Homo sapiens: one gene and its partners. The protein of the gene in region 4 purifies or fractionates together with the protein of the main gene of each other region. This does not show direct contact. Each region holds a gene or a part of one and is shown on either strand. Other genes may lie near its edges. The genes, in order: AQR, CCDC12, GCFC2, DNAJC17, CZIB, CYRIB and GALC.

Region 1 (3,500 bases), 5.8 Mb from region 4:
GGACAATTCCGCTCCCAACTTTCCACACAAGCCAAATCTATGACATCTTGAAGCTGACTACTACAATGCTCACCTAATTAATTCCCTGCCTCTTGCTCCCTCCAAATCCAAATTCTTGCTGGGTGCAGTGGCTAATGCCTGTAATCCCAGCACTTTGGAAGGCCAAGGCAGGTGGATCACTTGGGGCCAGCAGTTTGAGACTAGCCTGGCCAACATGGTGAAACCCTGTCTCAAAAAAAGAAAAAAAACAAACAAACCCAAATTCTCTTTTTCAAATACCACTGTGCTTACAACTCTTCTTACTTCCTACTGTTTTCCAAATAAAGAACAAAATCCTGAAGATGGCCTTTGACCCATTTAGTCAAATATCCTTTTAAAATACTCACTGGACATACATGTCTGCAGGTGTATATACAAAAAGATGCCTAAGACACGCTGTTAAATTTTTTAAAAGAAGCATGATGAAAAATAGCATGTAGAGTACAAACCCTTTTGTGTTTGAAAAAACATGTGAAGGCGTGGGGAATAGAACAGATGTATATGAACCATATACATGAACCAGGGATTGGGGGCAGAAAAGATGATTTATTGAAACTCACCCCTTACAGCATATTGCTCAAAAATAATTTTTATCACTTCTGTGTTTATTATTATACATTTTATACATTACATATGTATACTATATTATTGTAAATTTAATAATGTCTTACTTTCATAACTTTTTAAGAATATTTTTAAAAGGTGAATCAGAAATAATACTAGTAATAAAATCTTCATGTTTACTTTTTCTCAAATTCCATCTAAATCCAAATAAACCCTATGGGATTTGATACCTCTAATCTGAGCCAAAAGTTAGAAGGCAAAAAATAATTTATGACTCTTCAGCACCTAAAGTTTTTCTAGTCACCATTGCCCTGACGACCAGTTTGAAACAGAAAAAGGGTTCAAGTTATGATCACATTTAGAAGTTCAGCCAAGATCCAACTTGGTCCACCCCAATCACATTGTATAAAATTTAAATTCATTCCTACCTTGATTTGACAATCTCTTTTTCATATATATCTTCAATAACCTGTTATAAAAATATAAAAATGTTTAATATCTCAACAACTTTTTTCAACCCTAAATTGACAGTTTTTAATGAGTGAGATTATATAAAATAAGTTGGTTTAGGAAAGCCATCAAATATTACTGCTATTGAAATAATGAGATATTTAAAATAATCCCATTATATTCCTCGAAATATGAAATTAACAGAAAGCAAAGTAGAAAAAACAAATAATAAAACAGAGCCCTAGATTCATTAAAATGATGTGCTTATAAAGATTTTTAGGGAAAATAAAAATTCACAAGATCAGGATTTTTTTTAAACTTAAAGTGTATAAATGTTATGAGACTCCATTTGAGAGTCATAACTGTGTGCCTGCAAAACCCAGAGAGAAAATAATTTAAAAGTGTGAAGACATAACAGACACAAATTCTAATTGTTACATCTCTTTATCCAAATGAATATGATAGAGCTTCAGAATTTCCATTCATTTGAGTGAGGGTGGGCAGAATGGTGTACTACTTAAGAATTCAGACTCTGGCCAGGCACGGTGGCTCACGACTGTAATCCGAGCACTTTGGGAGGCCGAAGAGGGTGGATCATGAGGTCAAGAGATCAAGACCATCCTGGCCAACATGGTGAAACCCTGTCTCTACTAAAAATACAAATATTAGCTGGGCGTGGTGGCGCACACCTGCAGTCCCAACTACTTCGGAGGCTGAGGCAGGAGAATCACTTGAACCCGGGAGGCGGAGGTTGCAGTGAGTCAAGATCGCGCCACTGCACTCCATCCAGCCTGGTGATAGAGCGAGACTCCATCTCAAAAAAAAAAAAAAAAAAAAAAGAATTCTGACTCTGGAACTGTACATCTCAAAAAAAAAAAAAAAAGAAAAAAAGAACTCAGACTCTCGAATTGGAAGACTGGTTCAAAACATCTGCCTTCACTACTGATGGCTGGAACTCTTAGGCAAGTGCCTGACCTCTCCAAGCCTCAGTTTCCTTACCCACAAAACAGATCTAATAACACAAACTACCACACAGGGTTACTGAAAATAAAATAAGACAGGGCATATAAACAATTAGTACAAATACTGGCATACAGTGAGCCTTCACTAACAGTTATCAATAGCAGCAGTAGTAGTGCTAGCATTAATAATAGTAAAAAAAAATACTACTGTAAAATTATGAAGTGCTTTAACATGCTATAATATTATTGTATGGTAACTATAATGTCTTTTTTTTTTTTTTTTGAGATGGGGTCTCACTCTGTCACCTAGGGTGGAGTGTAGCAGTGCAATCACAGCTCATTGCAACGTCTGCCTTCCAGTCTCAACTATCCTCCAGCCGCAGCCTCCCAAATAGCTGGGACCACAGGCATACACCACCATACCCACCTAATTTTTTGTATTTTTGGTAGAGATGGGGTTTCACCATGTTGCCCAGGTTGGTCTTGAACTCCTGAAGTCAAGTGACCTACCGCCTCAGCCTCCCAAAGTGCTGGGATTACAGTCATGAGCCATGGTACCTAGCCTATAATATCTTTTAATTGCTCCAAGTACATTTGTGAAATAAGTATTTGTGAGTGGTAAAGGGAGGGAGGCGATAAGGAAAACAAGTCTTGTTCAATCTAGATGAAATGCTCTGTTATTGTTTTCATCAAATTTCAAATTAAATAATAAAATAAAGATTACTGGTTGGCCGGGTGTGGTGGCTCAAGCCTGTAATCCCACCACTTTGGGAGGCCAAGGTGGGCAGATCACCTGAAGTTAGGAGTTTGAGACCAGCCTGGCCAACATGGTAAAACCCCGTCTCTACTAAAAATACAAAAATTAGCAGGGCGTGGTGGCGTGCATCTGTAATCCCAGCTACTCAGGAGGCTGAGGCAGAAGAATCGCTTGAACCCAGGAGGTGGAGGCTGCAGTGAGCCAGAATCGTGCCATTACACTCCAAACTGGGTGACAAGAGCGAGACTCCACCTCCAAAAAAAAAAAATAAATAAAAGATTACTGGCAAAAACAAATATATATTCGTAAGAATTTAAGTTCAAATAAAGTAAGAAATTTTGGGTAAAAAGTTCAGTTTTACCAACAGTGCCTAAAGCATCACCATTAAATTTATAATGGCAAAGCTTAAGAGTCTTCATTACTTGTTGAATGGTATGCAGTGTCAACATCTATTTCATTTAAAGACCTCACTCTCTTTAAGGGACAGGGTCTCATTCTGTTGCCCAGGCTGGAGTGCAGTGGCCTGATTACAGCTCACTGCAGCCTCAAGCTCCTGGGCTCAGTCAGTCATCCTCCCGCTTCAGCTTCCAGAGCAATTGATACTACATGTGTGAGCCACTGCACAAGCCAATTTTTTTAATTTTTTTGTAAAGGCGAGATCTCACTACTGTCCAGTCTAGTCTCAAACTCCTGGCTTCAGGTGATCTTCCCTCTTTGATCTCCCAAAG
Region 2 (3,500 bases), on a different chromosome or scaffold from region 4:
TGTGACCACACCTGGGGCCCAGGGCATGGACTGAGAGGCCCCAAGACAGAGCTGTCGTGGGTCTCCCTGCATGCCAGGGTTGGCACTCCAGAAGGTGACAATGCTCACTTCACTATGGCAGCGTCCTGCCTTTGACTCTCGCAGAGCAGTGTTCTAAGAGAGATCTGTGAGCTCCTTCCATTGGGAGCCTGCTCTGGTGGACACAGAATGCGCTGGAGCCTGCATATAAATTATAAGTAAAACAGCTACTTGAACTACCTTTCCTAGACATTTATTTATGCCATTGACAACTGCCTTCCTAAGAATGGTATCTGCTTTATGTGGAGACTGCAGGCATCAACCAGACCCTGCCATTCCTTGGCCACACAACCTCCGGGGAGCAGACTACCAAAACCAGGTCGGAGGCCTGGCCCAGAGAAAGGCTTCTGTCATGAGAACAGATCAACATGCCCCCCACCCCAACTCAGGGCAGCTCATCTCATGGCAACGAGGCAGCGAGAACAAAATAACTGACCAAGTGACAGCAGCTACACGAGAGAGGTCAACATGGAACGTGGTTCTTGGGCGATGGGTGAGAGGTTTCCTACTGAGAGATGGGCTGGGCAGAATTGGGTGATACAGCATAGGGGGAGAGAAGTGGGAAGGGCATTCCCGGTGGGAAGCAGAGCTTGAACAAAGGCAGGGTGTGGTCTGAAGAGCATGCAGGTGACTGGGGTTGGGGGAGGGGGTGACAATGATTGCCAGGTAAGACAGTCAAGGCAGGCAATGGCCGAACACAGAGGGCTCTGGCCGGTGTTCTTAAGCAATGGAGAAACCGAGGAGAGACTGGAGAGAGTTCACTGACCTCTGCTGGGGAAGGCAGGCCCTGGGGTGGACAGGCAGATGCTTGGTGATGGCCAAAGAGGGAAGGGAGAACAGAGTATAAATGCTTCACTGAGAAACAAGTCAGGATTCTCCAAATGGCTCCCAGGGCTGCTGGGACCTGGACGGGGCTTCCACAAGGGCCCTGCTGACACATGCAGCCCTCCCTGACTAAAGACTAGCCGATGAAGCAAGCCAGAGCCTGCAAATTCTAGCAAAAAATTCCTTCCCAACTCCCAACCAGCGGACACCCTGAAGGCTACTCCCTGCAGTGCCTACCTCAGGGGAAGGAGCGGCAGACACCTGCCCTGGGTAAGGGCAGAGAAGGAAAAGCAGAAAGGGCTCTTCTTTCCCCACACTGGGCTAGTGGGGCAAGACCCCCAGCCACAAAGACGACTCCTTTCCACAGGGGTTCTGTTAACCCGAACCACCTGGCAGAAGTAGGTGGGGACTACGGGAAAGTGTCCAGCCTTTGGGAGGAGTGCTTTGCAAATACCATGCCCTTTCTCGGCTCTCAAGCAAGGTCAAACAGCTGTCACCACCCTCCTGGAGCCCCAGAGACATTCAAGTGCCTCAGCAAAGGCCAAGTTATTCATTAATAAATGAGAAAACACCCAACTATCTAAATGACTTTTAAAAATGCCCAGCAATCTGGTGGGTGGGGGGCAGCACTAGCTCTGCAGACAGCATGAGGTTAAAAATGACCCCAGCCTGGGATGCTGTGCAAAGAGCAGGGGCTCAAAAAAGATAAAGATCCACATCTGTGGCAGGAGCAGGTGAACAAATGAACAGGCCACACAAGTGGGGGAGATAAGGTGTACCTCAGCCTTCCTGACAAAGAGTGATTCATAAATAGGACAATGGGCATTCACGGGAAGGAAAATCGCTTTTGGTGACACTGGCCTGAATCACAAGATAAGGCCCTTTGCTGCCCGGGATAGTGGAGGGAAGCGCAGACCACTTGAAGCTCACCCCTACCTGAGAGACTCAAAGAGCCTCAGACCTGGAGGGCTCGCAGGATCACCCATTCTAGGTCCTCAGTTTAAGCCATGGGAAAACCTGGGAAATGGCAGTCAGGGAAAAGGAAAAGATTTGTCCAAAGTCACAGAACCCATCAGCGGTAGCTGCAAGTCTGGATCCAGGTCGTCCTGATGCCTGGCCCTCAGTCTTGCCAAGGAGACGAGAGAGAGGCTATCAAGAGTGGAAGAGTGGCGCTGAGTTTCTAAAGAGCTCTGATTCTACCCGCCTCTCCTGCGCTCCCCACACAGTTCAGACCTGGTCCCATGTGCTCAGATGCGGCCACAGCCAGCCCAAGTCCAAGCCTAGGCCCTGCTGGACACTCAGTAGGAAAGCAGGCAAGGCCCTAGGTGCACAGCCTCCCCAGGAATTTAGAGACACTTCGCTCACCCTGAGACCTTTAAATCAGACTCAATGCCTCACCACCCCCACTCCCCACTCAATACCCTTCCCAAATCTTGCCATCTTCTCCCTCCTTCCCAATCCCTAGTCTCGTCTACCACCTCCTTAGCTCCCCACCACAACCAAGCCCCCAGCCATTCCCCTCCACCCCTGCCTGCCAGCCAGCCTTCCCCTCTACTCTGGAGAATACAGCTGCCTCCTGCATTTTTCCCTCTCTTTCTCCAACCTGTCTCCCCTAAGTCTCTCTTCAACTTATCAATCCACATTCCTGGCCTCCTCTTCAAAGATACTGGTCAGACCACACTGCACCTCCGCTCAAAGCTCTCACTGGGTCTCCACACCCCCAGGACAACAGCCATTCATCTCGACCTCACATCTGCTCTGTCCAGAACACTCTTACACCCCACATTTTGTCTCAAATCCTGAAATATCTACTCTGATAACCCCCAAGAAAACACACCATCTGGCCAGTCCTAAAGGCCAGGCCAAAGGCCACCTCCTCAAAGCAGCCTTCTAAGATTCCCAGGCAAAAGAATCCTCTGGGCCTACCCAGTGCATATCAGGGTCTGACCGTAGGCCCAGGGCACAGGCCTGTGGCCATTCCTATTCACATGTAGGCTTTACTACCCCTTCCCTTCAAGAACCTCTCAGCACGGGGCATCTCCTAGAGCACCTCAAGGCCTAGCCCAGAGCCTGGGCTAGACAACCTTCAGAAATGCTACCAATTTAACTGCTACCCTCTCCACCAACTCCAGAAGAGTAAACCTCAGGAACGCTGATGGCTGGAGGGCAGGAGAGTCATGGTCTGGGCTGGGGCCCTCCCCATAGCCTATCTGCCTATTAATGGAGGTACTCCCCCATTTCTCACCCCTGCCCACATCTCCACACCTAGACCTTGCACCCCTGCCCTCACCTCCTCCCAGAGCCTTCAGCAGGAAGAAGCCTTTGAGGCAGGATTTCAGGGGGTCTCAAATACAGCCCTGCTCAGGACAGAGTCTGACTGACCTGTTTCCTAATGTTTGAAATCCTTTTTATCAGGGACAAAACTGTTACAAATAAAATTAGAGCTGTGCAAAGTTGGTATTGTTTCTTCCTTAAATGTTCAACAAGACTTCAGTGAAGCAATCTTGGCCTGAAGTTTTATTTGGGAAAATATTTGTTATAGGACTGTATAGATTTTCTATTTCTTCTCCAGCCAGTGTTATTAATTTATGTCTTTC
Region 3 (3,711 bases), on a different chromosome or scaffold from region 4:
TATTTTCACTTCTATAAAGAGAGTTCATGGATTCTGTATGCTCTCAACAACTTTTAGAAAGATTTGTATTTTTACTGTACTTTTAAAAATTTGTTAAAACTTTGTAGAGTTAGTAGATATTTTTATGGTTACCTTTGGGATGGCTTATGCATATCCATATTTTAAAATGTAAATCTCCCCCAAATTAAGCAAATTCAAAAAACTATAGCACAGGGGAATATAGAATTAAAACTATAAATCAAAAACATTTTATTAAGCACTTTTTAAATGTGTTTTTAATTTTCCTGTCCATTTTTAGAGACTCAACAGTTGTTAAGTACAGGTCTCCAGCTTGGTATTTATCCAGCAGTAGCTAGCTCTCTGTTCTGAATGTTTCGTTCACAGCACCAGCTGTTTGGGGGCTTAAATACAGTGGTATTCCTGTTAACTCCCTCTCCAAAAAAAATTTTTAAGCCCAGATTTGGCCGGGCATGGTGGCTCACGCCTGTAATGTTAGCACTTTGGGAGGCTGAGGCAGGAGGATCACTTGAGCCCAGGAGTTTGAGAACAGCCTGGGAAACATAGCAAGACCCTGTCTCTAGAACAAAAAATTTAAAAATTAGCTAGGCATGGTGGCATGCGCCTGAGTCCCAGCTACTGAGGATGCAGAGGTGGGAAGATTGCTTGAGCCTGAGAGGTTGAGGCTGCAGTGAGCTATGATTGTGCCACTGTACTCCAGTCTGACCAGCAGAGCCAAGACCAAGTCCCTTTAAAAAAAAAAAAAATCAGATTTGTATTATTTGCTAATGTCATGATGTGTGAATATACTCCCACCATTGCTTCCACCACAATGTCTCATACAAGCTAATAGCAACGCAGCACTACTGAAATTTCTGATAGACTTACTATATGCTTTTCTACCTTTTACAGTAATTCACATTGAAATTTGCCAGAATACATCCACTAATGATCTGTATTTGAACTTTATAATTAAGTGGAGATGGCAGCATCTCTCTGTGTTTTATGCTACTTTAGATATTGGCTTAAGGTAAAGCTTTTGTTTTAGATTAACAACTGATGATCAGGTTCTGAATTGACCGCTGTTCCCTCATACATTGCATTTTTAAAGGGAGAAATTTGTTTTGTTTTTCAGGGATGAAGTCGAAGAAATAATTCTTATTTTGGTGAAAATAAAAGCTTTGAATCAAGCAGAATCCTTCATAGGAGAGCATCACCTAGACCATCTTAAATCACTAATTAAAGAAGATTGAATAAACTTTATTGGAAAATGCTAAAATTTTAATATAGTTACACTCAGTTCCTTTGTTTGAGAAGAAGCTGGTGCCTCTCTCTTCTTTATTCCCTGTAATAGAAGGTAGGATTTGAAAAAAAGCAGGACTCCACCTCTGTATTCCCCCGTGCTTTACCTTCTGGCATCATGAAAAGCTGCCATGATTCTGTGGTGTTCTAAGGAATTAAATGCACTGGAGCTTTAAGAGCTCAACGTGTTTCCCTTTGATTCTTTTGGCTGGTCTTTCAATTTTCTTAAGAGGGGAACTGGAGAAACCTTGCTAAAGGTTTTAGCTTAAGTGAGCATGCTACTAAGTCTTCTGTCCTGAACCACAATAATATCTTTTAGTTCTCTTTAACTACCTTTATTTAAAAATAAGTCAATATGAAAATCTCAGTTGGAGTGAATTATTTGCTAAGTATTAAATGATTAAGGCATGTGCCGATTGTCAAATTATCCTTCAGAAATCTGTACCAATTTAATGTACCAACATAAGCATAAGTGAGTGCCAATGAATCCCTACCAGCAGTAGTTATTATCCTTTTTAAAAATGCATTGAAAATTTGAAAGGTAAAAATCTTATTTTAATAGCGTATTTTGTGTTGGCTATTAGAGAGTAAACATATTGGTTTTGGCCATTTGTAATTATTTCTGAAATATCCATCTTTTTCTTATGGACTTTAAGACCTTTATATTTTTAAAGATATTGATTTTTTGCCCATGCTTGTGGCAGAAGTTTTCCTTATTTGCCATTTTTCTTTTATTTTTTTTTTAATTGTATTTTTTGAGACAGGGTCTGGCTCTGTCACCCAGGCTGGAGAGTAGTGGCACAATCTCGGCTCACTGCAACCTCTGCCTTCTGGGCTCAAGCAATCCTCCCACTTCAACCTCCCAAGTAGCTGGGACTATAGGCATGCGCCACCATGCCCAGCTGATTTTTGTAATTTTTTGTAGAGATGGGGTTTCGTGACATTGCCCAGGCTGGTCTCGAACTCTTGAGCTCAAGCAGTCTACCCACCTTGACCTCCCAAAGTGCTGGGATTACAGGCTTGAGCAACCATGTTTGGCCTTTCTTTTAAATTTGTTGATGTTTTTTGAAGCATTAAGTCATTACTTATTAGCAAGTTACTATTTTGTTTTTTTGTCATTGGTGGTAGGACTAAGAAGGAAACAGATATTTTAAATACTCACAACATGTGATTCATTTTCTGATAAAATATTTGTCTAATAAAACAGAGGCAAGATAATTTAATCAAAAGAAATTAAGAAAATTTTCCAAAAATGTTAGTTTACTAGTAATTTTTCTAAGTCTACTTATTAAATAACTTAAGGGAAACTGTAAATATATTTTGCAAATTGTTGTTCAAAAGATAATTGGAAAAAATTGAATATATTGTAGGATTTGAATATACAGCCTACTTTTATGTCACCTCTACCTTCAAAACTACATATAATTTATTTTAGGAGTTGGATTTGTTATGTCTGTTGCAGTGAGGACTTGTGATTCACTGGTATGAAGAATTTTTTGATGTTTATATTAGTAACAAAATTATACAAGGATAGAATCTCATCTAGAAAATGCAAACTATTGTTGAAAAGCAGTTAGCATTTCCACACAACCGCTGTCCCCAGAGATAACTGCTGTTTTCATTTTAATGTTATCCTTTTAGACCTTTTCTCTATTTACAAAAATGTTACGTGTTTCTATGTGTACATAGTTTTGGGTTTTTTTTTTTTTTTTACGTAAGTGGCAGACACTTTATTGCACATGAAATTTGTAATTTTTTTCTATTTAAGTACACATTTGGAAATTATCCTCTGACTTTTGGATTTTTAACTAAATATGTTGGACGTGTTCCTTTATATATTTAAGTTCAGCACAGAAACTTTCCTACCTTTTTGTGGAAGATAAAATATTAAAACTGCTTTCAAAACTACAAATTGACTTAAACTGCTATAGTAATTTTCAATTAAATTTCATTATACCTGGAGTTTGAACGTTAAGGTTTTTATCATATACTGTAATTCAAAAATTTACCTAAATCTCAATGTAAAATTCTTTTTTTTCTTATTACTATGAAATGGATGGAATAAGGAGGGGGAACACAACTAGCAAGAACAAAACATTGGGTTGGCAATTGATATCACATCTTAATTCTTTCCCTGAATTTCTTTCAGCTTTTTGTTCACATAAAGAATGTGAAATTTTTACAGAATCAGACAGATGACTTTAAAGAAATTTTTTTCATGATGGAAAAATCACCTCAATTGATTTTTCCATTTCTTAGGTCCTTGAATAAATGATACTTAGGTATACCTCAGAAATGCCATATATGATACAAATCCTGCAAAAGACATCATGAGAAAATACCAGCAGTATCTATCATGAATGTAGAAATAAAAGTCCTTAAAATAATTAGCAAATCAAATCCAGCAATGTA
Region 4 (3,500 bases):
CTTGGAGCCACCCTTGGCGGGCCCCCAGCCCAACCCTGGGCAGCAGAGCCCGCCCATCACAGGCATGGCGCTGCTCCCCATTAACACACCCTCTGCCCCCCTTCCTGTTCCTGCTCGTGAGGGCCTGACAGCGGGGCTGAGTCACCCATACCAGCTACAGGTCTCTTCCTTCCCCAACAATCGTTCCACACGCCTGCCTTTCAATTAACTCCCACCCGCCCCGAACTCTTCCTACCCAGACACTGTGGGCAGGGAGCCAGGCGCACCTGCTGGGGGCCCAGGGTGGTGGGGCTGTGATCAGAAAGGAAGCCGCGTGGTGACACATAAAGCAGGGCTGCCCCCACACGAGTCCCCAGAGGAATCTTAAGCTCCCCATTGCCCTGGGGTGTTGGTCCCAGCTGCCCCATCCCTGCACGCGGATGCTGCAATTACCCAAGAGCACGAAACCTGGCTTCCCACCTGACTGAGTCAGCTGAGAACAAAAACACATCTCCACCGCCACAAACAGCCAGGCCACTCATCAGAGTCCGGGAGCCACTGGCAGAGAGGGCACGGCCCCACACTGCCCCAGAGACATATAGGAGCCAGGCAAACACCAGGGCGAGTGAGCTCGGGCCATCTGCTGCCTGCCTGTGGAAGGAGCGCTCGCCAGCCTCACCCAGCCCGAGAAGGTCCACCTCTGCCTCCGCCGGAGCTGCCCTCATTCTGGCTCCAGTAAGTGCTGCTTCTTCCTCCTGGGTTTTTTTCCACTACCCTATTCAGTAACCAGGCCACTCCTGTCCCTGTGGGAAACTCTTGCTGCCAGGAACTCCCAGCTGTCTGCTCTCCTGGGCAAAAAAGTTCCTTCTTCCTGAGCCCTCCTCTCACCATCCAAGATGTGGTCAAAGGTCTGTGCTGAGTGGAAACCCTGAGGCCTCTGCTCCTAGGGGAGCCTCCCCAGCTGCTGGCACTCACTGCCCCAGCAGGGACCACATGCACCCTGGCTGCTCCTGAACACCTGTCTGCTGGCTCCCCTGGGCCCCATGGAGACCTGGCGGAAAGGCTCCTTCCGCAACGCCTCCTTCTTCAAGCAGCTGAGCCTGGGGCGGCCACGGCGGCTCCGGCGACAGAGTAGTGTGCTTAGCCAGGCCAGCACAGCAGGTGGGGACCACGAGGAGTACAGCAACCGAGAAGTCATCCGGGAGCTACAAGGGAGGCCAGATGGCCGGCGCCTGCCACTGTGGGGGGACGAGCAGCCCCGGGCCACCCTGCTGGCCCCACCCAAGCCCCCACGCCTCTACCGAGAGAGCTCAAGCTGCCCCAACATCCTGGAGCCCCCACCTGCCTACACAGCAGCCTACTCTGCCACCCTGCCATCGGCGCTCTCTCTGTCGAGTGCCCTCCACCAGCACTCAGAGAAGGGCCTTGTGGACACTCCCTGCTTCCAGAGGACACCTACCCCAGACCTCAGTGATCCCTTCCTCTCCTTCAAAGTGGACCTGGGGATTTCACTTCTTGAGGAAGTTCTGCAGATGCTAAGGGAGCAGTTTCCTAGCGAGCCCAGCTTCTAAATGGGGTGAGGGTGGGCAAAGCCGGGGTGACTGGAAGATCCAGAGGCTGGGGATTAAGGAAAGGACAGGGACAGGACTCCAGGCCCATCGCTGGAGGGTTCAGGCAGGCAGAGCTTCTTCATCCTGGGGGAGGATTCCAGGATAGGAATCCAGGGCTCTGCCTGCTCTCTGGGTCCTGGACAGTCCTTCCAGGCACCCCAGAGTGGAGGGACAGAGGCAATCTGGAAATGTTGGGGGGGCGGCCCTTCCTGGCAGGACCCTGAAGAAAGCTGGCTATGCCGGGAAAGGGAGGCTGTGCCGGGAAAGGGAGGCTCTGTGCGGCACTACAGGAACCAGGTAGAGGCTGGCAGAGCCAGAAGGTGGCACGGGGTCAGATCAGGGAGTGGGAGGACACAGACTGAGCAGAAGAGATGAGTGCCCCATGCCAGCCTCTTTGGAAGCCACTGTCAACAGAGAGAGGTCACAGGACAAGCTTGGGTAAAGGCAGTCCAACCCAGGCAGAAGAGGAAAGTGGGAAGGCCCAGGAAGAAAGGGGAGAAGGCCTGACCCTGTCTAATCTGGTGGCCACTCACTGCATGACACTGAATTGAAATAAATAAAATTAACAGTTCAGTTCCTCAGCTGCACCGTTATTCCAGATTCCACATTCCAAATGCCCGGTGGCCACACATGATTAATGGCTACCACACTGGTCAGTGCAGAATGGACGTAAACATCGCTGCACAAAGTTCTAATGGACAGCGCTGTCTAGACCATGGCCTGGAGCCACCAGCAAAGGGGAGGCGCATACAGGGGCTGGCCACATAGGAAGAGATAGGTAGAGATAGAGTATAACTCAGGAAAAAGACCAGGCAAATCCTTAGCAGAAATGAGGACGTGGCTCAGTCTGCCAACACAGCTACCCGGAGCAATCCCTGGTGAAGGAAGGCAGCTCTAGAGAATGCCAGCCACAGGCACGCGCACGGCTTGCAAAGGGGTACTTTGGGGAATTCCCAGAATTACTAGTGATGGGAGCCCTGGCAGGTTTCCTTCCTCGAAGAGAGGAGAACTGGATCCAGGGATGGGCATTCAACAGCGAAGCGGCACAGCTGGTTTCCAGAACCGTCTCCCGGGATTAGACAGTTCTGCCGCCTGAACCCTCCGACGATGGGCCTGCCAACCAGGCCAAGCCCACTGGGTCAAAGCCACAGGCTGTGCTACGGCCCCACCCCATGGCCTCACCAGAACACAGAAACCAGAGCCCAGCAGCACTGGCTGGGCCATGTGTTGGTGGCCCCCCGGGACTCGCTAAGAGTAGCAAAGGGGAGAGGGAAGCTCTGACACACACCATTTCTACGACCTAAATCAGTGGCCTCCCTCTTTCCTCCTCTTGTGTATAGGTACCGAGCTGTGGATACAGGAGAGAATGAATAAAATTCTAACACAATCTATGGAGTGTTATCTGGGGCTGTGAAATGCTGGGACTTGAAGGTGGGAATGAGGTCTCTAAAGCAGGGCCCTGAGTCAGGCCCAGGCCAGTTTGTTTCCCTCCATCCAGGATCTGGGACACACTTGCAGAAAGCTGCTTTCCAGTCACCCCAGTCAAGTGGAGGGGCAGGCAACGGAGCAGGCTGGCGTGGGTAAAGTAATGAGAGCAGCCTCCTGCCAGCCTGCTGAGGGGCTGTGGACACACCAGACAGGCCCTGGGCCACTGCAGAGAAGGGAAGAACCAGGTTGCTAGATCTTGCCCCCAAAGCAATCTGTTCCACCAAGGTGGGGACAGGTGTGGCCAGGAGCCCCACAGCCCTAGCCTTTGTATCCAGGCCAAAAGACACCAGGGCCATGGTTGCAGGTTGGGGGTTACACACAAGCTGGAAGGTCTACGCTTCACCCAGGCAGGGCACCCAGACTCTGGGCAGGCACCACCCCGTGTCAGCAGGGTAGCCAGAGTTCCTTCTTTTTTTTTTTTTT
Region 5 (4,300 bases), on a different chromosome or scaffold from region 4:
CAAACGACTACCCCACCCATGGTTTCAGAGAAAGCTTGCTAGTCCCCTAAAATGAAGACAAGGCAAGTGCTCTCAGTGATGCAAACTGAACAGCTAGGTTGTGTCAGAGGTCCCCTGAGCTCTCACAGCCCAGCCCTCATAAGAAGGCACTGCAAGAGGCAATATACCAAGCACTCAGTGTACAGTGGATAAATGACTGAGTCAAAGAAGAACTAAGTTCATGAGTGAATGTCCTATGGCAGGTCACTCTGATGCAGGCATGACTCTAGAACCCAGACCTACTAACTCCAGTTAGGATTTAAGCCCACCATCCCTGCCACTACAGCAGCAAACTTACATTGTAAGGCTTGATGGTGCTGCTTAAAATCTCTGAAATAGAAAAGAGAACACAAAGTTGACTTGAGTCCATACCCTCGCCCCAGCCAGGTGCCCACATGTGGCCCTGAAAAAGATCACGCTGTACAGGTGTCGGCATCTTAGGCCTGACTCCACCCTCAGGTAACATGAGTCTACTTTCAGCCTGGTGCCAGGAAGCTGTGGGCCACCCTGGCAGAACTCAGTACGCACAGCCTGACCTACCGATGGAATTTTCTCTTGCACACAGCTTGCACTTCTGGACCATGGAAGCACTGCCACGGCCCCCCTTCAGTGCCACACTGTCCTGGCAAAAAGCAAACAGAACTTTCAGTCACATATGAATTAGATGTACAGTCCTGAGGAGATCGAGCCCACCATTTATTGTCCACTTAAAGAGACCAAGACCCAGAAAGGGTAACTTACTAGGACAAGACTCCTGGGAAGGCTTCCTGAGGAAAATAAAAAAAGGGCTTCCCCTTGATTTTGAACTCTGCCTCATACCTCAAAGATGCCTATTGAATCCAGTGCTGATCACACTGACACCTACCCTCCCAAACCACAAAAAGCAGGGAGCAAAGAACTGGAGAGATGAAGGCCAGTTTCCCCAAATCCCTGCCCAGAAGTGTATGTGTGTTTGTGAGTGTTTATGTTGGGGGTTGGGCGGGGAACAGTTACCATCAGCCGGATGTACTGCCACTTGTCCGAAATCTCACCACAGTTGCCACATTTCATCTTTGGGGAAAAAGAATGTTAGTAAAGCAGCTGGCTCTGCTGCACAGACACCAAGGAAAGGGTAAGAACAGTGGGAGGTGGGCAGGCTCATGATCTACCTTCTTGATGGCAATCTCACTTCATCCCTAACACCTGCCCCAACAAGGACAAAACTAGAACTATCTCTGGGCAAAGGATAGGTAAGGCTGTTTCCTATGCCGGCGTGCCCACCCTCCTCTATGAAGTGCTCAGTGTGGCCGGGGATTCAAGGCACCTGTGGTGCAGAAATGGTTTCAGCGGAGGTGAGGGGGGGGAATATGGAGAGATTTGTTAGAAGATACAAAATTACAGCTATATGGGAGGAATAAGTTCTAGTGTTCTATAGCACTGTAGGATGACTATAGCTGACAATAATATATAGTTTCAAATAGCTAGGATATTAAATGCTCCCAACACAAAGAAATGATACACGTTTGAGGTGAATATGCTAACTACCTTGATCTGATCACAATACATTACATTTATCGGAACATCACTATATACCCCATAAATATGTACAATTCTGTGTCAATTAAGAAAAAAAAAGAGAAATGGCCTCAGCAGGCCCCCGACCCACTCTGCTTGGTTAGCTTTATGTTCCCACAGGCCCTGTATGTCACTGGTATAAGCACTTATCACTCTATTGTTACTCTATTTTTCTGTCTCCTTCACTCGATTCCGCTTCTTCAAGCCAAAGAACAGATTCTCCCAAGTAAGCCCTGGTATTCAGGCTTCAAAATCCTGGGAAACAAAAGTAGTCCGGAGGCAGCTTCCCGAAAAACAGGGCTTTTGAGAGGTACAGAAGGATGCTGGGATTTTTGACCAGGAGTAAAACAGAGCAGAAGCTCTGGGATCTGGAAGAGTGAAGAGCCTCGAACTGCTGGGGAAGGGGAGGCCTCTGTAGACCATGCCACTAGGGTACCAGCTTTACCAGTGTGGGAGGGCTAAGGAAGGGTGGATTACGCACAAAATTAAACTATTTCACAATAAAGAAAACCAAATCAATAAACGAAAGGCGAACTATTCACCTTATTAAATAATCACAAGCGTCCCTTCAAGTAGCATTTCGTTTAGTGTCCATTTACAGACCACGAAATATTTAACACAGGGAAGAACTACAAAATGAAGCTTTCCAAGACTGCCAATTAGAGATAAACCAATACACTTTAATAGAAAGCAAACGTAAAATTCTAACTAGGAAAACCCCGAACACTTAATGTGCCTGGTTAAATATTTTCTCATACTGCCGGAGAGAAGGCTCCGGTTCAGCACTGAGATCAGGACGGGCCTCCTCTCCCCGGGCCCCGCCCCGGCCGCACCTTCAGGTACCACCGGAAGTCCTCGCCCACGGGCCGGAGGTTGGTGATGTTCTCCAGCGTGGCTTTGAGTTGCAGCGCGATTTTCTGAGGGGGAGGGCCAGAGCGACTGCGTCAGCCGTGCCTGCGCAGCCCCACGCCTGCCCGACCCTCCCGCATTCCCAGCCGTGGGTGCCACAGGGAGACACTCCTTCTGCCTCCTGCTCCTTCAGCGCGCACCCACTCGCTTCATCTCCTCCTGGCGCGAGCTGTTGCCTCCCAGACCCTCGCCACCTCCCCTCCGTGTCCCCGCGGCGGGCGGCCTCCCCTCACCCCCATGGTAGCCCTCTCCGCCCGGTGCTGGCTGCGGCCCTTGCCGTTGCTTTCCGGCGCGTCGTAAAAGGCGGGTGCCGTCTGCGCACCCTCAGTAGGGCGGGGCCGGGGCCGGGCCGCGGGGCAGGGACTTCTGCGCGCCGCTGCTCGCCTGGCCCACTGGGCTTTTCGCATCTGGGGATCTGGGGCCAGTGGAGGTCAGCCAGGTCCGCGAGCAACCTGTGCTCAGGCCAGCGGAAGCCTGACTCCAGGATTCGGTGGTGCCACAGACAGTTACTGAACGCCAATTTTGTGCCTGCTTTAAGCGAACAGGACAGTTCCTGACCCTCAGTTCTTTCCAGGCTCTTCACTACTCTGCCTGCCCTGGAACTTCTCAGATCACGTCAGCTCCCTCTGCCCAGGGGAAAAGCTACAAAAGGAAGAGTTCCAAGACTGCCAAATAAAGATAAACCAATACGCTTTAAAAAGTAGAATGTATTGGTTTATCAGATTTGGGGATGATGCCTTTCTTCAAACTGCCCTTTCCTGTTTCACCCAAGAGACCTGGTTTCTAGGCCCTTCTCCAGAGTTTGCCCTGTGTCCACATCCTTCTCACTGTGGTCCTTGCGACTGGACATTCCCCTTCAGCTGGCTCTTTTTTGGGAGCCCACCTGGCTTATCCTTCTCTCATAACGTTTATTGAACTTTATTTTACCTGGCCTCCTGTCCAGGCTACATCTGAGACCATGCAGGAGCTGTGGAGATTAACGGTAAAAGGAACAGCACATTCAAGACTCTTCTAGGAGGTGGGGCAAGATAGCCAAATAGAACCCTCCAGTGATCCTCCTCCTCCTCTTCCCTGGCAGGAACACCAAACTGAACAACTATCCACACAAGAAAGCACCTTCATGAGAACCAAAACTCAGGTAGCAATCACAGTAGCTGGTTGTAACGTCACATCAAGATATAAGGCAATGGCTGGGTGCGGTGGCTCACACCTGTAATCCCAGTGCTTTGGGAGGCTGAGGCGGGCAGACCACCTGAGGTCAGGAGTTTGAGACCTAGCTGGCCAACATAGTGAAACCCTGTCTCTACTAAAAATACAAAAATCAGCCGAGTATGGCAGTGCACACCTGTAGTCCCAGCTACTCCGGAGGCTAAGGCAGGAGAATTGTTTGAACCCGGGAGGTGGAGGTTGTAGTGAGCTGAGATCATGCCATTGCACTCTAGCCTGGGTGACAGAGTGAGACTCTATCTCATAAAAGAAGAAAAAAAAAGGAACAAGGCAATGAAGAGGGTAGGAAAGACAGTCTTGAATTGCTACCACCACCCCTCCCTCATCCTCTGGCAGCACCTGGCTGCCTGGCATAGAGAGAGAATCTGTGTGCTTATGGGACTTTGCATTGGAACTGAGTTTTGCCCTGTCACAGTGGAAAGCAACTCAGGGCAGAATTCAGCTAGTGCCCACAGAGGAAGCACTTAGAGAAACCCTAGCCAGAGGGGAATCATCCATCCCAGTGGTCAGGTTCTGGCGAGCCCCACCACCACTGGCTAAAGTGCTTCAGGGTCCTAAATAAATTCGAAAG
Region 6 (3,500 bases), on a different chromosome or scaffold from region 4:
TTTAATCACTTCACACAGTGTGGAATTTGGTTTTATGAAATGGTAACTATTATCTACAGCTGAGTAACTTTCTTCAATGGCACTGTGTCCACACTGTCTGTATATGCCTATGAATCAATTACCAATTTCTCATACTTTGAATACATCCTTTATTTATAACCACAAACTGTTTGCTTTCAGCTACTAAAGAGAACAAAATATGTGGTTCAATAAGCTTCTTGTCTTAGAACTTGACATTTCAAGACTACAATATAAATATTCTAATTCATTATGTGAGCAAAATGGTCCCTTTGAAATAAGTGCTACTTTTGGGATGCCAGGCTAATAAATACCATGTTTGATAATGGAAATACTAAATACTAATACTAATATTAAATACTAAATACTAATATTTCATTTCAATATTTCAAAAAGCCATAGAAATCAAATGAATTCAGTTACAGATCACAGAACTGGAAAATGCTGCTAGATTCTGGTCAGAGAAAATAAGAGCTTACAGAGTTAAACTATGATCTGATGTTAATAAATGTCAGATTAACAAACAAATATTAATGATAAATTTAAAACTTTATGTCAGGTCATCAGCCCGTAACTTTAAAAAAACCCCAGTTTTCCTATTTATGAAGATTTACGTATGAGTCAACATCTACTGTACACTGAATATAGTCTCCCATTTGATTTTTACCATCAACTATGACATGGTCATTCCAGATGGATCAAATGAGTTTCAAAGAACTTAGAGCCCAAAGTTATAGCTAGTAAATGCTAGGTATTTCTGACTCCAAAGCCCTATTCTTTCTACCACAATAAACTGTCTCTGAAATAAAGCAACATTGTACGTAGCCTCTGTAACTTTATAAAACATTAACCTCCTGATTACTACCAATAGTACCAATTACTTCTGTAACCCTACAAAACATTAATCTACTGATTAAAAACAATAGTAGGTACTTCCTGTGTGTCTGTCAGATACCAGGTACTGAACTATTTCTTCACAGACATTATTTCTCATCCATGTAATAACTCTAAATGACAGCTATTATCCTTTTTTTTCCAGTAAGTCTGAAAATGTACTGACTGGCTACTCTGTGCCAAGCACTGGGAAAATGGATGTAGACAGACATGCTCCCTGTGCCCATATGGAGCCTTATTATATAGAGAGAAGACAGACAAATGATTACAGCTGTGATATGTGCTGAAAATAAGTACAGTGGAAAGGTATAAAAATAAGACCTCACCTAATGGAAGGCCCAGGAAAAGATCTCCCTGAATAAATGACTCCTGGACTGAGACTGAAGTATGTAGTAAGGATGAACATGAGTTTGCAGACAGAAAGGCAGGAAGCCAGACCCTGAACTGAGAAGAGCATGACATACTTGAGGAACTGCAACACCACCAATATAGGAGCACAGAGGGCAAGGAGGAGGGTAACCAGGACTAAGATGATTCATACACATGTAATTTGTGGACCACATTAAGTACTCGGGCTTTGGCATCCTAATGTCCCTAGAGAAATCATCTAAGCAGAGGAGTGGCGTCAGCAGATTCGCATTTTAAAATGCTACTTCATTTGCAGTGTGGAGCATGGACTATAGGGGTATGGATGGTGTATCAAGGTGTAACAGTGGATGTGAAGAAGATCAATTAAAAGTCAAACATTTTGGGTTATATTTTAAAAATGGTTTACTTCTCCCAAGATTCATTCTTTCTGTTGGTGTTAACTGGAAAACTAAGTAAGAGAGACACCGAACAGAAAAAAACATTTTTACAAAATATTATTATAGTCTGTTAAAGAAAAAAAGAAAAATGCATCTGCCTAGACTTTATCAAGTCTCAGGGTTAATTTCAGCATTCCAAGTTCTCTACCACTTTTGGGACTGGAGTCAGGTCGCTTGACTAAGTTGGGATGGTCAGTGACCAGTAGTTGCAGAACTTTTGTCTATGAATGGCTGAGGCCCTCCATGGTAGATCTATGTTGAAAGGGAAGCTCAAGATGATAAATCTGCTAATCTGCCTTTGAAGCAGCTAGATCAGCCTCACCCTGCAGGCCTGTGCTGGCACAAGTCAGTCCTACTAGCCTACAATGCTCTGTCTCAAGAGAGAAACTGGAGACAATCCCACAGAAAATGTCCCAGAGGTCTCTGGATGAGTTGGAGAGAAAGAGAGGACAAAGAAAAGATGCCTGGGATTGGACTCAGATGAAGCTCCTAAAACAAAACCATGAGATTATGATTTTTTAAAAAGCAGATGACCAGGAGAAAATTAATAGTCTATTAAGCCCTAAGTTCTGGAAGAACCAAAGGAAGCTGGCAGATGAGTGCAGGAGCCAAAACCACAGAAGGAGGTTGCAAGGAAAAGACAACTAGAAGGAATGATAAAGATGACAAATCAGTCCACAAGCTAGGACAGGGAAGAATAACTAGTTGATTAGGAAGAGGAGGCCCCTGGGGAGAGTTTCCCTATAGAGACAACAGTCGTTTATTCTCATCAACTGCCATCTATCTACTCTCAAACTCTCAGAAGAGAACCTGAGGACATGGATTCTAAAGGATTTAAGACAACCAAGAGTCATGACCACAATTAACGGTGGGCATTTGGGGCCTTTAAAATACATTTTGATAAATTCTGCCCAGTGAAACGAAGCTAACATGTTGAAGGGACTTATTATGACCCTTGGAGGCAGTCCCTAATGTAAGCCCCTAAAGCATGAGCAAGACTGAGGGGAGACAAAGCAGTTTGTCCTACTACCTGACCATACAACCTTCCCTTAGGTATCTGCCTCAACAGGAGGGGCTCCAAGGCCTCAGAACAAAACAAGCAAGTACAGAACAAGCAAGTATGGCAAGTTTACTGTAGGGTCCAGCCCCACAGGGTCGGTGGGTTTCTCCCCGTGTGCAGAGACGAGAGAGTGTAGAAATAAAGACACAAGACAAAGATAAAAGAAAAGACAGCTGGGCCCGGGGGACCACTACCACCAAGACGCAGAGACCGGTAGTGGCCCCGAATGCTAGGCTGCACTGATATTTATTGGATACAAGACGAAGGGGCAGGATAAGGAGTGTGAGCCATCTCCAATGATAGGGAAGGCCACATGGGTCACATGTCCACTGGACAGGGGGCCCTTCCCTGCCTGGCAGCCAAGGCAGAGAGAGAGAGGAGAAAGAGCGAAACAGCTTACATTATTATTTCTGCTTATCAGGGACTTTTAGTACTTTCACTAATTTGCTACTGCTAACTAAACGGCAGAGCCAGGTGTACAAGATGGAACATAAAGGCGGACTAGGAGCGCGACCACTGAAGCTCAGCATCACAGGGAGATGGTTAGGCCTCCGGATAACTGCAGGTGGGCCTGACTAATGTCAGGCCCTCCACAGGAGGTGGAGGAGCAGAGTCTTCTCTAAACTCCCCCGGGGAAAGGGAGACTCCCTTTCCCAGTCTGCTAAGTAGCGGGTGTTTTTCCTTGACACTGAGGCTACCGCTAGACCACAGTCCGCTTGGCA
Region 7 (3,500 bases), on a different chromosome or scaffold from region 4:
AGTTTACCAACTATCGCCAGCTCTGACAGGGAGTGGGGAGTAGGGAGGTTATCTGGGTCTTTCTTTTGACTATCCTTGGGAGTGGTTCTAGGTCTTTGGAGGATCACTTCTCAACCTTTTGACTACGATGAAGTGTAGATTCTGGGAGGGCTGCATCTTTTTACACCCTCTTTTGAGGATCCTCTTCATCCACGATAAGACATAAAAGGCTTATTGGTTTGTGTTGTGAGTCACTTAATAGACACCTTTGGTTTGAAAAGGTCAATACTGCCAGGAATATTTACTGTTTGTCCTGGCTCAAACCTGATAGTAGGATATTTGAAAGAATTTGTTTTTTAAGAGTCTATGGTCAGGAGTTGGCCAAACTGTAGGCTGACATTCAGAACCTGATATGATACACACACACACACACACACACACACACACACACACACACACACACCATTTTTTTAAGGCTACTCTGTTCTCTGTTTTGGATCTTGCTTCTCCCATGGGAACTTAGTTGCTAGAAATCCTTCTTCACAAAGCCCTGCTGACTATATGCACTTCCTATTCTGTCTACCTCCTTCTTGTTGGAACTTCATTGACCTCTTTGGGAAGCTTGAGATCTCCCCACACTGGCACCTCTCAGACTTCTTCTTCTCTCCACTGGCTTCTGCTTCTGCTTCCATGTTTTTTCACCTTCATTCTTTCATTCAGTTCCCTTGAATCCTTGATATGTCTGCTTTCAAGCCCCTACCTCCTCCCATGCCTCTGTCCACCTGTCAGACCTATTCCCTTCCTACTCAAGCCCCTCAATCACTTGAATTTTAAGCTCGTTGCTCTCAACAGACTTAAGGTCTCCCCAAAACAACCTGAGGATGAAAAAGGAAAAAGCCACAGCCTCCATATACATATCAGGGCAAGGGAAGGTCGTGAAGGTCGTCTCCACAAATATTGGTACACAGGTAACCTTAATTTTATCCCAACTGCCAGGAACAAAGTGGAGAAAAGATGAGAGCCAACTATTTTGTACAAATCAGTGAGTTGTGTGCTATGTTTTACGACTCATGGCTAAAATTTTTTAAATGAAAGCCATAAGATCTTGGCATCTGTCTGTATGCTTATGTATTTACATGTAAAACAAAAGTATTCAGTTTTATATTTTATTTTTCCAATAGTAAAGAAGTGAGTTAATCCAATAGCAACAACAAAAGTTTACCATGGTTTCAATGATGATGGTGAGGTTCCCTAAGCCATCAGTCAGAGCTACGTAGCTTCCTCCTTTCTCTAAATGGCCAACTGTCTTCAGGTAATACCAGCCAGGTTGAGTAAACTGAGTGGTATGAGCTATAGAAAAACAGAAAGTTCCAAATAAGACAAAAATGGTAATAATAGTATTTCTTTTGGGAAAAAAAAAAAGCTGTATATCAATTTGAGTCTGATTCATCCAAACAAGCTATTTTCTATTTTGCAGGAATATATCCGTCAACCTCATGTTTAAATTTTTAAATAATTAATCTAGATAAATGGTACAATTGCAAGAAGATTCCTGGAATGATGGGTAAAAATAAATGAACCTGTCAGTTCAAGAATATGATCAGTCTTTTTTTTAAGAATAAAATAGTTATTCCCCCCCCAAACTTGGTTCATCACTATTTAATCCATCCTAAAATAGCTACCAAAAAAAGGTTTAAAAAGTTAATAATGAATTTCAGAAACTAACTTTATGGTTTCAAACATATTTATTTCCACCACATGTACATTTATTGGTCACCTCCTAAGCTCGTCCTGAAAATGCACTAAGCAATATACCATGTCCCAACCCTTGGAAAAATCACAAAATTAAGAGTACATTAGTTCATCTAGATAATGTGGGGCCAACAATTTCAACATTCAAGGCGCTGATATACAAGTCTAACCTTAATTTTCTCATATAATTCTCAATATTAGAATATACAAGTCCAATATACAAGTCTAACCTTAGTTTTCTCATATAATTCTCAATATTAGAATATACAAGTCCAATATACAAGTCTAACCTTAATTTTCTTATATTTTTTGGAGGACAATTTAAGGAGTTTAGAATAATATCATGATTACATGATTAATATGATTACAAATCTGTCTTAGGAGAGCACAACTAAAAGGGAAAACCACCAAATTTAAGTTTAAAATAAAAACAAATTCACTCCAAATTCATAATTTTCTTCTGAAAGCATTTTACCTTTAAAGAAATTAGCTTTTTAGAAAGATTGTTAGAATTTTAAAACAAAATGGTAATAAATGTTTATAATCTTTTACAAAAAAACTGCAGAAAAGTTTCAACATTATTCAGCAATAGATTTTGTTACTTTGTTTAAAATATAATCACTATTAGTATGGTTATTATCTCCTCATGAAAAAGTGACACTATGCCATCCATCCCTGCATAATCTCAATTTCCCTTGTGACTAATGAATGATACTGTAGTAAAACTTTTGTGTTTCAATAAAAACGGATGTATTATCTATAGCCCTGTTCATTGTCTCTGAGCTATGTAAATTATGTCTTGTCTGGTAGAAATTTAATTAATTTCTTCCCTGTTGTGGGAAACCCAATTTGCCTCCATTGACAATTCATCTCCAATTCCCTTACACTACGAAAATTTGTGCTATGTTGACTTTTCATTTCAACTGTTTCTAACATCTACCATCTATCTGCCAGGATCCTTCATATCATATGAGTAACATAAAATCTTCAGTACGTGCTCACTTTTAAAATCTTTTGAGCTTTACATTGTTACCTATTTTGAAATTTACCTTTTCACAACCCACATTTCACAGATTTAGGGGACAATATAAAGCCATATTTCACATAACTTTCATATTTACTTATTCATTTGATGATTCAATAATACAGTATTTTTAATCATCTCCCTTTGATTTTGCTAGCATACGATTGTAATTGAAACTCTATTAATATAAGAGAACAAAATGTCTTCAAAGCTAATCTTAAGACTTCTACTCTGTTTATAAATACATAATCTTATTAGCAATTATCATCATTTGTAATTATATCCTTAGATGATTATTTATTTGTGTCTCTATCACTACACAGCTCCTCCTTTTCCTCTCTCTCCCCCTCCTCTCCTACACTTTTCTAAAAGCCTGGTCTTAGAATAATCAGAGAGTAGTCTAGTTACCCAAAATATTCTTATAAAACACTGGCAAATCTTGCTTAAAACTTAAATCTATACTTAAAACACGCATAGACACACAGTTTATATAATCTTCTCTAAGTTTTTTTCTGCTTTGTCTCTTAGAGAAGAATTTAGGGAGTGAGAGATGGAACTGAACCATACCTGATACCCAGACAGGAGATTCTACCACGTAGTGCCCACTCCATGGCTCCTGGGCCGTCATCAACCCGCATCTCCCATAAGGCAACTGTTCATAGTAACTAGCCACTAAATTCCATGCGATTGTGCTAAAAGATTTGATAAAAAAGAAACACCAAGACAACTTGTGATAAAAATGTAA

Evidence for each region.
Region 1: the proteins of DNAJC17 (region 4) and AQR purify together in Homo sapiens (affinity purification with mass spectrometry; one large-scale study listed by BioGRID and IntAct). This does not show direct contact.
Region 2: the proteins of DNAJC17 (region 4) and CCDC12 purify together in Homo sapiens (affinity purification with mass spectrometry; one large-scale study listed by BioGRID and IntAct). This does not show direct contact.
Region 3: the proteins of DNAJC17 (region 4) and GCFC2 purify together in Homo sapiens (affinity purification with mass spectrometry; one large-scale study listed by BioGRID and IntAct). This does not show direct contact.
Region 5: the proteins of DNAJC17 (region 4) and CZIB fractionate together in Homo sapiens (co-fractionation; one large-scale study listed by BioGRID). This does not show direct contact.
Region 6: the proteins of DNAJC17 (region 4) and CYRIB purify together in Homo sapiens (affinity purification with mass spectrometry; one large-scale study listed by BioGRID and IntAct). This does not show direct contact.
Region 7: the proteins of DNAJC17 (region 4) and GALC purify together in Homo sapiens (affinity purification with mass spectrometry; one large-scale study listed by BioGRID and IntAct). This does not show direct contact.

The regions. Positions count from the first base shown.
Region 1 is NC_000015.10:34,959,743-34,963,242, forward strand, and holds part of AQR (RNA helicase aquarius), read right to left. Parts: intron 1,073-3,500; coding exon 1,032-1,072; intron 1-1,031.
Region 2 is NC_000003.12:46,942,246-46,945,745, forward strand, and holds part of CCDC12 (coiled-coil domain-containing protein 12), read right to left. Parts: intron 1-3,500.
Region 3 is NC_000002.12:75,662,205-75,665,915, reverse strand, and holds the end of GCFC2 (intron Large complex component GCFC2), read left to right. Parts: intron 1-1,132; coding exon 1,133-1,250; 3' UTR 1,251-3,211; downstream 3,212-3,711.
Region 4 is NC_000015.10:40,769,474-40,772,973, forward strand, and holds part of DNAJC17 (dnaJ homolog subfamily C member 17), read right to left. Parts: intron 2,977-3,500; exon of another isoform or gene 1,551-2,976; coding exon of another isoform or gene 1,023-1,550; exon of another isoform or gene 507-1,022; intron 1-506. Other genes in the region: C15orf62 (uncharacterized protein C15orf62, mitochondrial precursor), read left to right, coding at 1,023-1,550. UniProt on the Homo sapiens protein: May negatively affect PAX8-induced thyroglobulin/TG transcription.
Region 5 is NC_000001.11:53,217,835-53,222,134, forward strand, and holds the start of CZIB (CXXC motif containing zinc binding protein), read right to left. Parts: upstream 2,801-4,300; 5' UTR 2,742-2,800; coding exon 2,736-2,741; exon of another isoform or gene 2,526-2,735; intron 2,511-2,525; coding exon 2,427-2,510; exon of another isoform or gene 1,967-2,426; intron 1,090-1,966; coding exon 1,033-1,089; intron 662-1,032; coding exon 580-661; intron 370-579; coding exon 338-369; intron 1-337.
Region 6 is NC_000008.11:129,856,061-129,859,560, forward strand, and holds part of CYRIB (CYFIP-related Rac1 interactor B), read right to left. Parts: intron 1-3,500. UniProt on the Homo sapiens protein: Negatively regulates RAC1 signaling and RAC1-driven cytoskeletal remodeling. Regulates chemotaxis, cell migration and epithelial polarization by controlling the polarity, plasticity, duration and extent of protrusions.
Region 7 is NC_000014.9:87,962,183-87,965,682, forward strand, and holds part of GALC (galactocerebrosidase isoform a precursor), read right to left. Parts: intron 3,448-3,500; coding exon 3,323-3,447; intron 3,317-3,322; exon of another isoform or gene 2,022-3,316; intron 1,962-2,021; exon of another isoform or gene 1,706-1,961; intron 1,330-1,705; coding exon 1,202-1,329; intron 1-1,201. UniProt on the Homo sapiens protein: Hydrolyzes the galactose ester bonds of glycolipids such as galactosylceramide and galactosylsphingosine.